Linked DNA regions of Homo sapiens: region 1 is linked to region 2. The links come from fine-mapping of genetic effects on gene expression. A gene starts in region 2. The other region holds a variant in brackets. All regions are shown on one strand. Distances are between the middles of the regions.

The links. PIP is the estimated chance that this variant, and not a neighbour inherited with it, causes the effect.
Region 1: its variant is the best candidate, but not a certain one, in a credible set for the expression of RNF168 in whole blood (INTERVAL, PIP 0.75).

The regions. Positions count from the first base shown.
Region 1 is chr3:196,470,779-196,476,244 of GRCh38, forward strand. RNF168 (ring finger protein 168) reads right to left here. Exons shown (of 6, transcript NM_152617.4): 5 at 4,453-4,534; 6 at 1-1,994. The coding sequence ends at 1,041. Among named protein-coding and RNA genes, the nearest start is that of RNF168, 30 kb to the right of the region's middle. The variant CA/C (reference allele first, on the strand shown) is at 3,059.
Region 2 is chr3:196,501,673-196,506,672 of GRCh38, forward strand. It overlaps RNF168 (ring finger protein 168), which reads right to left and starts at 2,096. Exons shown (of 6, transcript NM_152617.4): 1 at 1,201-2,096. The coding sequence starts at 1,501. LOC105374306 (a long non-coding RNA gene) reads right to left here and starts at 380. Exons shown (of 2, transcript XR_924896.3): 1 at 1-380. It overlaps LOC105374307 (a long non-coding RNA gene), which reads left to right and starts at 3,680. Exons shown (of 3, transcript XR_924897.3): 1 at 3,680-4,539; 2 at 4,655-4,759. RefSeq lists enhancers at 206-890, 891-1,574, 1,226-1,295, 1,336-1,425 and a silencer at 2,046-2,345.

The DNA of each region.
Region 1 (5,466 bases), 31 kb before region 2:
TCTTAACTCCTTCTGCATAGTTCAGTTTCCTTTCTGGCAACTAATTCCCAATTTCCTAGAAAACCCTGATTTTCTGATTTAACACTGATTCGAATCCACTTTAAACCAAAGGAAACAGGCCGGGCGTGGTGGCTCACGCCTATAATCCCAGCACTCTGGGAGGCCGAAGCAGGTGGATCACCTGAGGACAGGAGTTCAAGACCAGCCTGGCCAACATGGTGAAATCCCATCTCTACTAAAAGTACAAAAAAAAAAAAAAATTAGCTGGGTAGCTGGGTGTAGTGGCACATGCCTATGATCCCAGCTACTCGGGAGGCTGAGGCAGAAGAATCGCTTGAACTCGGGAGGCGGAGGTTGCAGTGAGCTGAGATCGCGCCATTGCACACCAGCCTGCGTGACAGAGCAAGACTCTGTCTCCAAAAAAAAAAAAAAAAAAAAAAAAAAAAAAAAATCTGGGATTTCCCACATATGAATATGAATCCAAATTTTGAAACTCCGTCTAAAAAAAAAAAACAAACACCAAAGGAAATGCTACAATGCTGAAAATTGAATTAAATTGGAGATGGAAATTAGATTACTTTAGGAAAACCTTTTGAGTACTCTGTAAACATTGGACAATAGCAAGAAAATGGATTTTAAACCCTGCATGGGTTCCTTAATCACTCAGAATAGTATAATCTTGCTTTGATTACCAGTCACGACAAAAAGGTGAGCAAAGGCCATAAAACATGCAGTTTTTGGAAAGACAATGGCACTTGAAGATTTCCTGGAGTTGGCCAAAGCTTAAGATATCTCTAAGAATTGTAAAGCTTAATACACATCTGTTATTAAGAAGGGAAACGACAGGGGACCCCTGCTTACCGCTGAGCTGTGCAGAAGCTCATGTGTCTATGCAGTCCTTACAATCACACAGACCTTCATTAAGGACAATGAGTGTGCCTAGAGAGCAGCATGAATGACACATGGATGAAGATTCCATGATAGGAAAGAGCTTCACATTCCAGCTTTACTAGATCACAAAGCACTCCCTTTACCAGGCCTTACTTTGTGCATCTCTGAAACATCTGAAAAACACTTTTCTGTGAAATGCTAGGCTGTAGGGAGTGAGCACTTTTGGATACCTTACAGTGATCTCTAGTAGAATTTGGCATCTTTCTTCTATTAACTGACTGCTTCAACTGCATCTTTAAAGACACTTGCCTATTTTTGTCCCTTGAGCCTCTCTCTGGTGTTGGATGCTTTGTGTGAGTTTGCCTTTTGAAGTTCCCATCTTTGGGATTCTTCCTCTGTCCATTTAGCACTTTGTCTGGAGGGGAGGATGTAGCGCGTAAGTGATACTCATCTGGGGATCCTTTTTGCCGGTTTGGCACCATTTGCTCTTTATCCACCTCCTTCTGAAGTTGTAATGCCAATAACCTGTCCTGTTCTTCTTGTTTATGTCTCTCAAACAGTAGATGCTCCAAATCTATCAGTTTTTGGGTAAAGTTTATTTCTGTTTCCTCTTGATCTGGGGAAGATTCGGGGGACACTTTTCTTCTTTTTGCAGAAAAGCATGGATCCTTGACTGCTTCAAAGGAAGATTCTTGGTTTTTTCTTTTGGAAATCTCCTTACTGATCAGTAGGCACGACTCTTCATTTTCTGTCTCACCTGTGTTGTTTCCATTTGTCTGTGTCACCCCTGATGTGGGGGCGCACCCACTTTCTGTTCTGCCACAAGGCATAACTGCAGTTTCTTTCGAGTAGGGAACTCTGGTTTTAGGTCGCTCGTGACTTAAGACACATAACTCTTTCCCATGATTGCTTGGTCTTGTTTTGACGTTTCCTTCATGGTACCATTCGGCACCACAGGCACATAACCATGGCATAGGGGACTCTATTGAAGAATCTGCACCTTGTTCTCCAACTCCAAGGGATATCTGTGGAGAAAGTGTCGGCATATCTTCTATTTCTGTGTCTTGCCCTGTTGGGCTTTTCCTATCACTACTGTCAATGTCCTGTAGAAAACAGAAAAAGACTGAGTGAACCAGGGGAAAATATCAAATCATAAGATGTAAGTCTAATTACACTGATACTACAGCTGGACTGTCACTATACATTATTATTACTAATAAGGTATATATTTCTTTCTTTCTTTTCTTTTTTTTTCAGAGTCTTGCTCTGTCGCCCAGGCTGGAGTGCAGTGGCGCGGTCTCAGCTCACTGCAACCTTCACCTCCCAGGTTCAAGTGATTCTCCTGCCTCAGCCTCCCAAATAGGTGTATATTTATTCTTAATAGTATTTTTATTTCATGGGCAAATTTAGATTAAGCTATTACTTCATTTTCACTCCCATGAAAACCTACAGATTAAAACCCACAGACTAGATTCCAAATATGGCCAATAGCTGGTATCAGGACCTGACCTTCTTTCACCTTACAAAGGTCTGCCAGCATAGGGGTTTTTAACTCTTTTCTCTACCGTGGACCCTCCTTTTGGCATTTAGGTGAAGCTTACAGACCACTTCTGAGAATAATGTTTTTAACTAAAAAATTAAGATATACAGTAGCTTTACAAAAGGAACAATTTATGTTGTAAACACAATCATTAAAAGGTTCAAAAAAATGTGAGGTAATAATGTGCATCTATAATACAGTAAATAATAGGATCTACCAGCCAGTCTAATAACTCATAATACCCAATTATCTGTGTCACCCCTGATGTAGTACACCCACTCTCTGTTTTGCCACAAGGCACAACTGCAGTCTAATACCAATGTAGAGATAAGTATAAATGATATTTAAAGATATCTGTAACATGGCTGGGCACGGTGGCTCATGCCTGTAATCACAGCACTTCCGGAGGCTGAGGCGGACAGCTCACCTGAGGTCAGGAGTTTGAGACCAGCCTGGCCAACATGATGAAACCCCATCTCTACTAAAAATACAAAAATTAGCCGGGCGTGGGGGTATAAGCCTGTAGTCCCAGCTACCAGGGAAGCTGAGGATGCACCGAGCATCCACTGTACTCCAGCCTGGACGATGGATTCTCTCTCAAAAAATAAACAAAACAAAACAAACAAG[CA/C]AAAAAAAAATACCTAGTGTTTGGAAGATAAAGCTTGGGACTTCTATAAGTTACTTCTATAAGTAACTTGACTGGGTGTATTTCTCACCAAGACCCCTGGAAGCTAGACCCATTGTTTGTTATAAGAAATAATTGACCCTTACAGGGCATGTGGTCTCAAAGTAGTTAATACACTCACTTGTGTGGCCTTTTTCCAGGCTATCACCTTGGAGCTCTGCTGCTGAGGACTCCTGCTGAACACACATGCCTGATGCTGCCTTACTAGCATACTTTTTCTCATCTTGCAATTTTTTTTTTTTTTTTTTTTTGAGGTGGAGTCTCACTCTGTCATCCAGGCTGGAGTGCAATGGCGACATCTCAGCTCACTGCAACCTCCGCCTTCCGGGTTCAAGCAATACTCCTGCCTCAGCCTCCTGAGTAGCAGGGACTACAGGTATGTGCCACACCTGGCTAATTTTTTTTTTTTTTTTGGTATTTTTAGTAGAGATGGGGTTTCACCACATTGGCCAGGCTGGTCTCGAACTCCCAACTTTCTGCCTGCCTCAGCCTCTCAAAGTGCTAGGATTACAGGCCTGAGCCACCGTGCTTGGCCTCCCATCTTGTAATATTCTTTTTTTTTTTTTTTTTGAAACAGAGTTTCACTCTTGTTGTCCAGGCTGGAGGGCAACGGCACGATCTCAGCTCACCGCAACCTCTACCTCCCGGGTTCAAGCAATTCTCCTGCCTCAGCCTCCCAAGTAGCTGGGATTACAGGCATGCGCCACCACACCCGGCTAATTTTGTATTTTTTTGTAGAGATGGGGTTTCTCCATGTTGGTCAGGCTGATCTCGAACCCCTGACCTCAGATAATCCACCTGCCTCAGTCTCCCAAAGTGCTGGGATTACAGGCGTGAGCCACCGCATTCAGCTCCATCTTGTAACATTCTAAGTGAAGCTGGTGCCAGGTATAACCTATTCAGTTTTGTGAGTTTGGATTACATAGGTCAAGGATCAGTAATCTATGGCTCATGGACCAAATCCAGCCTCCTGCCTGTTTTTGTAAACAAAGTTTTACTGGAATGCATTCAAGCTGATGTGTTTACATATTATCTATAGATGCTTTCACACTACACCAGCGTAGCTGAGAAGCTGTGACACAGATCACACTAACTGCAAAGGCGAAAATATTCACTCTCTTAGAGAAAAACTTTGCTTTTTGTAGTATGTTTATTTAAAAAATTGTAGTTTCCTTTGGAGAAAAAGTGCTTTTTCTCTAGGTGAGCCTAAGAGGACTCAGACAGGGTGTTTGATTAACTATAGGGGCTTTTGTTAAAAGGTAGAAAACTATGGATAGCACTAATCTACAGCATTAATGAACCAGCAAAACTCAGAACATCTTCAGTATCAACATACCTTAGATACGGAGTCTTTCCTGACTTCTTGTACAGCTTCAGAGTGTGAGGCTGACCCAAACTGAGATTTCGGTGTCAAATACCTAAAAGAAAAGTTTACCAAAGTTTCAATGCTTTCAAAGACAGATGGTATGTACCCAACATAATAAAGCTATTTATACCGAAGGTTGTCTGGTTTGCTGCTTGGCTGTTTTATCAGAGTGTATCTCATTTCCGTGCTTCAGATATTTTGGTCAATTCCAGGACAAAACTTAAATGATTGAGTATTGATATTTTAGTGAAAAACAGAAAAGGAAGTAAAAGTCAAATCTAAATATTTTTTCTTTTTTTTTTTTTTTTGAGATAGAGTCTCGCTCTGTCACCCAGGCTGGAGTGCAGTGGTGTGATCTCCGCTCACTGCAAGCTCCGCCTCCCGAGTTCACGCCATTCTCCTGCCTCAGCCTCCCAAGTAGCTGGGACTACAGGCGCCCACCACCACGCCCGGCTAATATTTTGTATTTTTAGTAGAGACGAGGTTTCACCGTGTTAGCCAGGATGGTCTCGATCTCCTGACCTCGTGATCCGCCTGCCTTGGCCTCCCAAAGTGCTGGGATTACAGGCGTGAGCCACTGAGCCCGGCTAAATATTTTTTTTTCTTTTCTTTTTTTTGAGACGGAGTCTCCCTCTGTCGCCCAGGCTGGAGTGCAGTGGCGCGATCTCAGCTCACTGCAACCTCCGCCTCCCGGGTTTAAGCGATTTTTCTGCCTTAGCCTCCTGAGTAGCTGGGATTACAGGCGCCCGCCACCACGCCCGGCTAATTTTTGTATTTTTAGTAGAGACGGGTTTCACCATGTTGGTCAGGCTGGTCTCGAACTCCTGACGCTCAGGTGATCCGCCTGTCTCAGCCTCCCAAAGTGCTGGGATTACAGCCGTGAGCCACTGCGCCCAGCGTAAATATTTCTTAATTCTTGAAAAAAGCTTAAAAAAGCAGATAGCATCAAAACAATGCAAGACTCTATAGTCTTCCCAAAAGTAA
Region 2 (5,000 bases):
TTGTACTTAAAAATGGTTAAAATGTCAGTTTGTTATATACATTTTGGACAATATTTTAAAAATAACGCAATATACCAAAAACCATTAAATTGCACACTTTTAAACATTTTACTGAATTTATGTTACCCAGACCGGCCTCAACTCCTGGGTTCAAGAGATCCTCCCACCTCCGCCTCCCAAAGCGCTGGGATTACAGCTGTGAGCCATCGCTCCCGGCCAACCGCACACTTTTAGTAGGTGAATTGTATGGTCTGCGAGCATTTGAATAAAGCTTTTTCTTTTAACTATTGTTTAAAAATGTTTAAAATGGCATTTTTTTACAATAAAATAAACGTATGTTTAAAAGGCAGGTACACATATAACTGTGACCAAAAAAAATTAGAAAAAAAAAAAAAAAAAAAAAAAAAAAGACCTGTCCACGAGAGAACGGAGACACCATATCCTAAGCCCAGACAGGAACCACCGCCCGGCTTATTGCTCACATTAGTGGAGGAAAGAGTCAAGGGTTCAGTTTGGGGCTCCTGAGTCTACCGGGTGCAGGGTTGAGTGATAAAAAAGCGACTTTAGCCTCGTCGCATGATTAGGAGAATCAAGAATTAAATGAATGGAGATGTATAGATAAGTAAATCAGAGGCCGGGCGCGGTGGCTCAAGCCTGTAATCCCAGCATTTTGGCAGGCCGAGGCGGGCGGATCCCTTGAGGTCAGGAGTTTGAGATCAGCCTGGCCAACATGGTGAAATCCCGTCTCTACTAAAAAACAGAAAAATTCCCCGGGCGTGATGGTGCACGCGTGTAACCCCAGCTACTCGGGAGGCTGAGGCAGGAGAATCGCTTGAAACCGGGAGGCGGAGGTTGCAGGGAGCCGAGATCGCGCCACTGCACTCCAGCCTGGAGGACGGAGCGAGATCCTGTCTCAAAAAAAAAAAAAAGAAGGCTCCAGACGGGCAATTCTTTAATTTTTAACACAACAAACACCCATCGAACACAGCGCGGGCATTTTGACAATGGACAAAATCTTGCCCTTGACTTTATAATCCATCGACATTTGGGGACCCATAAACCCCCTAACCTCTGAGAACTATTTAGACAAATACTAGTCGGGTTTTTTGGTTTGTTTTTACTTTTTAAATGGAAAAGTGATGATTCACCTTTTCAAAGACTTGCGGCTTTTGGCCAACAAACACGCCATGGTTTACTCACCCACTTCCTCTGATTCTTGGCCAGACGCTCTAAGCTTGCACTCCCTGGGATAGTGTTTTTGAATTATCGTCCACAGTTCCACGTTGACGAGAGAATTTCTTCGGGTATGGTACCGAGTCCACGACGATACCCGGCGGCGACAGAAGGGACAGCATAAACTCGCCTTTTCGACGGTCGACTGGAAGCACGGTTTACACAGCGTGTGGTTACACGGGAGGGTGACGGGCTCCACGAGGATTTCCATGCAGATCCCGCACTGGCACTCGGACAGCGAGGGGATGGCGTCTTTGGGTAGAGCCATTTCAATATGTTAGTAAAGCCGACTAAACAACGACACCTGCACGAAAAAGAATCCTATTTTCGGCCAACCACAGAGAGAGCAAAAGCAGTTTTGTGTTTCAGTATTATGCCCAGAAGCGTATCAGAATTCGGAGAACAGGAGCATCCAACACGTCTTGAAGCAAAAAGGCGCTCTCAGGGTCAGGCAAACAGGAATACCCCGGAGGGCGGCGTCTTTGTCCATTTTCAAGGCAAACGTCCCGCCAGCAAATAAATGCAGGTTTTCGTCGGAGGAGCCTGGCTGCTCCGCGGCATGAACACCGCGGCTGCGGCTCCCGGGGCAGCGAGGGGAACGCGCCAAGTCCTCTCCTCCCCTCACCCGGAAAGGATGCTCCGCTCAGCTCGGGGCAGCCGGGCCCCGGGACGCGGCTCCGGGAGGAAGCCCGGGCTCCGGCTGCAGCATAACTTCCGCTTTACCGCTGCTGCGGGGGAGACGCGCGACTCCCGTGTTCACCTTTCGGGCGCCTGGCGCAGTTTCCCAGAGCTCCGCGCCCCCGTCCCTCCTACGCAGCCAGAAACCCTATTCGTTGCGGCAGCGCAGCAGCCACCGGACAAGCGCTAGCAACGTCACAACCGCCCGCCAAAATCGCACTTCCCACCCAGAAAACTGCCCAAGGGCGAACGTTCCCGGGGCGGGACTTCCGGGGTCTGCGCGCCGCCCGCCCTCCCTCCCAGCCGGAGACGGTCCCGCCCTGGCGTCGCAGCCCCGCCTAGTGCAGCCTGGGTGGAGCCTGACCTTTCCCTGAGATTTCTGCGAGGCCTCAGACACCCCTGGTTTCTTGGTTTCTGGGTAGAAAAAGGGAAACCTCAAAACAAAATCAACAGCCAAACAAGGCCGGGTGCGGTGGCTCACGCCTGTAATCCCAGCACTTCGGGAGGCCGAGGCGGGCGGATCACCTGAGGTCAGGAGTTCAAGACCAGCCTGGCCAACATGGTGAAACCCCCGTCCTTACTAAAAATACAAAAATTAGCTGGGCATTGTGACAAGCTCCTGCAATTCCAGCTACTCAGGAGGCTGAGACAGGAGAATCGCTAAACCTGGGAGGCAGAGGCTGCAGTGAGCCGAGATTGTGCCACTGCACTCCAGCCTGGGGGACAGAGCAAAATTCCACCTCAAAAAATACAAATAAATAAATAGATAAAAGAATTGGGGTCTCACTGTTTTATCCAGGCTGGACTACAACTCCAGGGTTCCAGGGATTCTTTCGCCTCAGCCTCTGGAGTAGCTGGGTCTAGAGCTTGCAACTCCATAGCCAGCTCCGGACCTGCATTTTTTGAGGGAATCAATCAGTGTGAAGGAAGAGAAAAGAAAATCACTGTGCGTGAAAGCAGCCTTTAAGTTGTTTTGAGGCTGCTGAGAGCATTCAGGCTGGGTAGGGGATGGTTTCCAGGTTGAGAACAACGAGGAGACATCGGTCGTTGGTAGAAGTCTTTGGGAACTTTCATTTCAATGTGGGTTCAGAAACCTGTTATTGTCTGTGATAGCTCACACCTGTAGTCCCAGCACTTTGGAAGGCCAAGGCGGGAAGATCAGTGGAGCCCAGGAGTTCAGGTCCAGCCTGGGCAACATAGTGAGACCCTGTCTCTACAAAAAATAAAAAAATTAACTCGGTGTGCTGGCTCACACTTATACTCTCAGCTACTCTGGTGGCTGAGGTGGGAGGATCACTTGAGCCCAGGAGGTCAAGGCTGCAGTGAACAGTGATCGTACCACTGCACCCCAGCCTGGGTGACAGGGCAAGACCCTGTCTCAAAAAAAAGAAAAAAAAAAGAAACCTGGGACTGTCATCTGGTTGTCTACAGTAACAGTACCTTAGCTTGGAATTTCAGGCTTGTTTTTTGTTCGTTTGTTTGTTTTTTTGAGATGGCTCCTCATTCTGTTGCCCAGGTTGGAGTGCAGTGGTTTGATCTCAGCTTACTGCAACCTCCACCTCCTGGGTTCAAGCGATTCTCATGCCTCAGCCTCCCGAGTAGCTGCAATTACAGGCGCGTGCCTTGTAATACCACGTGCATTGTAATACCACGCCTGGCAAATTTTTGTATTCTTAGTAGAGATGGGGTTTCACCATGTTGGCCATGCTGGTCTCGAACTCCTGACCTCAGGTGATCCACCGGCCTTGGCCTTCCAAAGTGCTGGGATTACAGGCGTGAGCCACTGCACCTGGCCTTCAGGCTTCCTAATATGTCCACAACCTGCTTTTCCCATCGAATCTCCCATTATTCTTTTAAACATGCAACTATGATTTATTCTCTGTCATCCAAACGTTTTGCTTTCATGACATTGCTTTCTCGGTTCATCCTAAATGGGTTGCTTTGTGGCTGTGCCTACTTCAAACACCAATTTAATGCAGTTGGGCCAGGCACGGTGGCTCATGCCTGTAATCCCAGCACTTTGGGAGGCCAAGGAGGGCGGATCACAAGGTCAGGAGTTCGAGACCAGCCTGACCAACATGTTGAAACTCAGTCTCTACTAAAAATACAAAAATTAGCTGGGCATGGTGGCAGGTGCCTGTAATCCCAGCTAGTCGGGAGGCTGAGGCAGAAGAATTGCTTGAACCCGGGAGGCAGAGGTTGCAGTGAGGCCAGATTGCACCACTGCACTCCAGCCTGGGTTGACAGAGCAAGACTCCGTCTCGAAAAAAAAAAAAATTAATTCACTTCTTCCAGAGTGCACTTTTATGTGCAATTTAATGCACTCCCCACCACCAGTAATGCCCCTTTTCTAAACTCACCCAGTCATATATTGCCCAGTGATACTGATTTTTATTGCAGTTTTACTATTGAACTCCTGTATTTTGATTTCTATCTTCAGGTGCTTATGTCTTGTGTAATGGATATATTTCATGTACTTCCTCAGATTTCCTTCACTTTGTTTGCTTTCTGTACCCATAATCACTTGCTCTTTTTGGGGCTCACCAGTTGCATTTCCGGAATCTCTGGCTTCTCCTGCCACTTCTGAACAATGCAGGAGCTGACTTCTCAGAGGCTGCTAGGGCCTCGGTAATGCATGCTGGGAGGGTGGGGGGGTCACTCCCCATGGAGTAACTTTCACCAATTGAAACCAGTGGACTGACCGAGCACAATACTTAAATTCCCTTTTCTTCTTCCTTCCAAGGATGGTTTCTCCAGTGTGTCTGGAGACAGGCAAGACTGAGGGAGTGTGCCTGCTGAAAAAGCTGCTGTGTCTCTTGTGGCTCATTTTCAAGGAGGGGACAGCAAGGTAACACATCACCATGTATTACTTCACATCCTTCTCTACCTAACTTCCTTCCAGCTTTCTTCACTCTGGCTGTCCTGAATTTGTACCTCCCAAATAAAGCATCGGCACTTAATCTTTACCTCGAGGGCAGGATCCACATTTTTAATGTTTCTGTTATCCACAGTACCTAGTACATGGCATTTGGTATTCGATAAATATTATAAATAAATGGTCAAGATGTAAGAATCTCCTTTCTGGTATA